Regions from separate parts of the Homo sapiens genome. Here region 1 is linked to region 2. The links come from fine-mapping of genetic effects on gene expression. Tissue or cell type: sun-exposed skin. Region 2 holds a variant in brackets; the other region holds the start of a gene. All regions are shown on one strand. Distances are between the middles of the regions.

What was found. PIP is the estimated chance that this variant, and not a neighbour inherited with it, causes the effect.
Region 1: CLDN34 starts here. The variant in region 2 is the best candidate, but not a certain one, in a credible set for the expression of CLDN34 in sun-exposed skin (GTEx, PIP 0.71).

The regions. Positions count from the first base shown.
Region 1 is chrX:9,966,216-9,969,131 of GRCh38, reverse strand. It overlaps CLDN34 (claudin 34), which reads right to left and starts at 1,774. Exons shown (of 1, transcript NM_001195081.2): 1 at 780-1,774. The coding sequence starts at 1,774. The coding sequence ends at 1,130.
Region 2 is chrX:9,944,447-9,947,349 of GRCh38, reverse strand. SHROOM2 (shroom family member 2) reads right to left here. Exons shown (of 10, transcript NM_001649.4): 9 at 2,437-2,709; 10 at 1-679. The coding sequence ends at 413. Among named protein-coding and RNA genes, the nearest start is that of CLDN34, 21 kb to the left of the region's middle. The variant C/A (reference allele first, on the strand shown) is at 1,051.

The sequences.
Region 1 (2,916 bases), 22 kb before region 2:
GACGCAGGCGGATCACTTGAGGCCAGGAGTTTGAGACCAGCCTGGCCAACATGGTAAAACCCCAATATTTTTAAAAATACAAAAATTAGCCAGGCATGGTGGCAGGTGCCTGTAATCCCAGCTGTTCGGGAGGCTGAGGCAGGAGAATCGCTTGAACCTGGGAGGCAGAGGTTGCAGTGAGCTAAAATCACGCCACCGCACTCAAGTCCAGGCGACAGAGCAAGACTCTGTCTCAAAAAAAAAAAAAAACTTGGGAAAAAGAAACATAGATTAGAAAGGTAAAAGAATGGAAAGAGAAAGCAGAAGTGCCCTAATCTCAGTAACTGTGGAGTCTGGCAATGGGTGTGTGGAGATTCCTTATGCTATCCTCTCTACTTTTGCACATTTTAGAAAACTTTATATGGTAGGGAGATGTTATTACCATGACATAGAAAATAAGGTCCATTCTTGGTTTTTTGTTTATTGGAGTTTTTTTAAAGAGTCAGGGTCTTGTTATATGGCCCAGGCTGGAGTGCAGTGGTGCCATCACGTCTCACTGGAGCTTCCAACTCCTGGGCTCAAGTGATCCTCGCACTTCAGCCTCCCAAGTAACTAGAATCACAGCCACGCACCACCACACCCAGCTATTTTTTTTTTTTCTTGTAGAGACCAGGTCTTGCTATGCTGCCCAGGCTGGTCTTGAACTCCTGGCCTCAAGTGATCCTCCCACTTCGGCCTCCCAAAGTGCTGGGATTACAGGCGTAAGTCACCATGCCTGGCCTATGATTGTTTGTAGCAAAAGTTTAAGAGGGAAATGTGAGAAGTTAATGTACTCAGAAACTCTTATTTCCCTACTCTTAGTTTACAGGGTTGATTATTTGCTGTAGCCAACAATAATTAAAATTCAGATGCAATAAGACCAACTGGCAGGTGGGAAGACTTTTAAATAAAAGTTCTCAATTCAACCAACAAATCAGTGAGCCACATTCAGATACACAAGATAACAGAAGGAGGCAGTTGGCCACCTTCTGTCCCAAACTACCCATGCCACGGTCTTGAGTCGTTGGAAATATTTGGTAGAGCATGCTAATAACATTTTCCATAAACTCCCAGAAATCTTAGATTTGCAAAGCCAATGCAACCAGGAAATTCACATTTCTGAAATACCAGGATGCACTTGGCCGTACGGGGGACATTTGTAAAACAGAGAAAACATCCCAGTTAACAGCATCGGCAAGACACCTATCCCTGCCACTTGAATGGCAGTGCCAACTTCCTGCACATCTGGCTTGAAGGGCATTTGGAGAGATGGCAGGAAGGTGATCCCCTGTGAGTTTATGACGGCATCGTAGTTCTGGAGCACAGCAATTAAGTTAAAGACACCAGCAGCAATGTTGAGAATTCCTGAAACAACGAATGAATTGTAGGTGTCCTCCTCAAACATTCTCATGGACATGTTTCTAAGTGCAAACATGTTAAAGGCTCTCCCGAAGAATCCGAAAATGCTGGCAGTCAGTAGGAAGCGTTGAGCCATGGAAATTTCAAAAGGGAGAAAGGTGTCCTGGTAGCTGTATCGGTAACAAAATTTGGTTGTGGTGCTGTTGGTGCGACGCCGGTAAATGCAGACTCTAAATATTCCCACGCAGGCGATTCCAGGGGGGTAGAGCGAGGTGTCTTTCATGTACCATATTCGCCACTCCACGAGGCCCGTGGACGTAGAGGAGAGGATCCATCCTATGGTGGTAAGGGCGAAGACTGAAAATTGGCAGTCGGCACTGTTGCAGAACCAGACCATGGTGGCAGCGCACCCAGGAAACTACAAACAAATACAGAGCATGGTGAGCGGGGGGACCCTGGGACCTGGGACAGCCTCCCATGGGTGAGTAGCGCCAAGAGGGAGGTGTTGTATTGGAGAAAGGAGACACTAGACCCTCTAGATCTGCTGGTGGGAGTGCAGTCTGAGCAAACTTTGTGCAGGGCCGCTCCGCGATATTTCCCGAAAGCTTTAAAATGCACACACCTTCAGACTGGCAGTTCCACTTCTGGGCATTGGTGCAAAGACATGAATAAGGTCGGCCACAAATATGTAGCCACAAAGATGGTCCTCACAGCATTGCTTGTAATATTGGAAACCGGGGAACAACGTCAAGTCCAACAACAGGGCTTGGTGAAGGAATTTATGCTATGTCCACGCGATGGAGCTATACGCCAACATTGACAATACAAATGGAATCATACAAGGTATAAGAGTTTTGTGTGGCTCTTTTCACATGGCACGTTTCCAAGGGTCATCCATGTTGCAGCAGGTATGAGAAGGTTGTCCCTTTTCATTGCTGAATGGTGTTCCATTGTGTGGGTAGACCACAGTTTGTTCATTCATCAGCTTTTGGACATTTGGTTTGGTGCCATGTTTTGGCCATTATAAACTATGCTGTCATGAACACTTGAATATAAAAGTTTGTATGGGCATATGTCCTTGTTTATCTGGTGTAGATGCCTAGGAGTGAAATTGGTGGTTCATATGTTAAGTGCGCATTTAACTTTTTGTAAATTGCTCAACTGTTTTCCCACGTGGCTGCACCATTTTATATTCCCACCAGCAATGATGGAGGTTCCAGTTTCTTCATATTTTCTCCAACATTTGGTATTTTTAATGTTTTTCATGACAGCCATTCTAGTTGACATTCTGTGTGACCAAAAGGGAGGTGTCCGTAATATTTCAAATACAAATTACATGTTTCAAAATAATATGTACGATATAATCATAGATACAAATCGAACTGAAAATCTACATCCTAAGCTATTAGGAGACATTTTTAACTGGGTTTGAGAGATTCTGAGTTTTTTCTAAGCTATTTGGATTGTGAAGGGTCACACACATATAGAAAAGCACACAAGTGTGCAGCTCAATGAACGATGGTGGGGTGAACACCCATG
Region 2 (2,903 bases):
AGCACCAGGGTCCCCCTCTCATGCACGTCATGACGCGCTGGCTGCTGTCCAAGCAGTTGGCTCAGCATCTGAAGACGGGAGGAACAACGGGTTTCCCACTGACAGTGACCACTCGGCAGGCACCACAGGCCCAGCCCACAGCCCATGCAGTGGAAACTCACATCCAGCAGAGCCTGGTGTCAGGTGTAGTTATGTGTAAAGGAAAATGGCTCTCAGCAATCAAAGGGGAAACTAAAAAATTAAATAAATCATCCCACACAAACACAAAAGTTATTGCTTTTATAACAGCCTCTTTGCTATGGGAGAAGTCTCTTTCCAGGCCATGAACACAGATGGGGTCTTCACGAGTATCCTTGGGAACGGAGCTGGAGCTCGGAGGCCCCGTGCCCCTCCTCCACCGGGGACTGGTCTCTTATTTGCCCCTTTCGGGCTGAAGGCTGTCCAATAAGCACTTCAGCTGCTCTTCACCAAGGTGGATTTTATCTTCCAGCTCCCGCTGCTCGATGATGAGGGCCGACTTCATCTTCACGAAGTGCTCATAGTCCGCGAGGCTCTCCTCGCTCAGATAGTTGGCCAAAATGTCAAAGACGATGCGCTCGCGGCGGTCCAGGTTCTCCTTGAGCTCCTTGGCGTCCTCGTGCTGCTGGATCAGGACTCTCTGCTTCTCAAGCAGTGATTGCTGTTGACAGACAAACAAGCCTGTTGAGGACCAGGATGAAAGCTGGGGCACTGGCCAACCCTTGAAGACACTGGCAACTTGTGGGCTGGTCCCACAACTTATCGATGGAAACCCTGATGCCACCAGAGATCCGATGGGGTCCACACAGACAAACCCAGGGCCCAGGGCCTGGGGGCATGTGTCTCATGGTTGCAGCGGGCCAGCCTGAGGCCCCCAGAAGCCGCCCACAGGCCTCTCTGGGTTTCCTCTTGCTGTCTGAGCCTGACTCTCTCCCACCTGCCTCGAATGGTGAGCAGAAGAGTCACCAAGGGACTCACAACGACAGAATTCTGAGATGCTGCAAAGGGCAAAGGACTGCGGGGCCCTCTTGG[C/A]GTCAAGGTCCGCTCCATGGGAACACCGTGGGACAGCTGGCCACATGGGTGGACTCGAGAGGAATTCAGGGTAGGCTTACTAAATGCTCCTGGCAGGAGGAGGAGAAGCCCCCGAGCCTGCAGAGCATATCTGCACACAAGGAAGCCTGAGGGTGGAGAAGACGCAGTGCTGTGCACGGGTGTCGGCCAGCAGCCCCCTCGGGCACGGTGCCACCCTGACCTAGCTAGTTCCACGACACAGTTACTAAGCACTCGGCTGAGTGCAGAAGGGCACCGTCTCCAAGCCCAGCGCCAGGACAGCGTTCTGCGTGGCCCAAATCACCCTCACCTGGAGAAAGGGGAAGGGTGCTTCTTCTGCTCCCCTTCTGAGAGAGGTTAAGATGTTTTATTCATGATACAGATGAACATTCTGAAGGCCTGTTCTGTGCAAACAAAACTAGCTGTTTTACTGATATTTGGCCTATGAGGTAAAAGCCAACGAGGCAGCTATTATTTCTCTTGGTTCATATGTGAAAGGACGAAAAGACAGACCCACTGAGAAACGCCTTGAAGTTAGATGCACTGTCTGCTTCCTTCTAGACTGATACATGCCCTCTTGTTAAATCACAGCTACAACCACCACAAGAAAATAGCTATCATTGAGTACTTACGATCGTCAGCAGGCAGGCATGTCTGTTACGGACTTATACATGGTAAAAGAAAAGTAAAAACAACAACAACATGATTTTTCTAAGAAGAGACAATTATCAGTAAGAGTCAATAGGAATATCTAAAAAGATGTTAAAAAGAGGTAACAGTTCTTTGAGAAGATCCCGCAACCCTGCAGTCCAATGACGGTTCAACTCCCTGCATCTGATAAGCACCTTTTCCCCTCAATTAAAAGGAAGGAGGCCAGGCACAGTTGCTCACACCTGTAATCCCAGCACTTTGGGAGGCTGAGGTAGGCGGATCACTTGAGCTCAGGAGTTCCAGACCAGCCTGGCCAACATAGTGAAATCCCATCTCTACCAAAAAAATACAAAAATTAGCCAGGCATGGTGGCATGCACCTGGGAGCTCAGCTACCCGGGAAGCTGAGGTGGGAGAATCTCTTGAACCTCGGGAGGCAGAGGCTGCAGTGAGCCGAGATCGCACCACTGCACTCCAGCCTGGGCAACAGAATGAGACCCTGTCTCAAACAAACAAACAAACAAACAAACAACTAAAGAAATATAAAAGGAAGGAGAGGGTATAGAGCGTGCACTGTCTCGACAAGGTCTGCAGGAGGAGGTGGACAGGCCATGTGGAAGCTATGCTAGGCTCCAAGGAGCTGACTTTCACGACACTTGAAAAACAGCCTTCCCACGAGACCACCCCCCATTTCCAAGTCAGACGTATCTGCATTTACCCGATCACCGGGAGAAGCGCCGTCGTCCAAATTATTGAGGGCATTCTCCACCCGGGCCAGGCGGCCTGACAGCGACAGCAGGAGGTTCACCACTTTGTCCAGGTCTCCAATGAACATCCGGAACTTGTCAAACTCGCTGGGCTTGCAGACGCCTTTCACGATGGCCTCCACCTCGGCCCCCAGCACGGTGTTGGCCTGCACGTCCTCCAGCAGGCTCTCGCGGGCCTCCCGGAGCACCTGCAGCTTGCGGCTGATGCTCTCGATGAGCTCCTGCTGTTGGGCACGGGATGGCAAGGGAACACGGAGACACTGGTTAGGCCGGCCCCCACCCCGGCCACACTGCTCACTGCCACCTTGGCGCACCTACGTGAAAGGTGCAGCTGACCTGCGTGAAAGCTCACTTTTGCATCACCAAATAATAGGGGATTTATACGACTAAGGGAAAGAAGAATGACTCCTAATGGCAC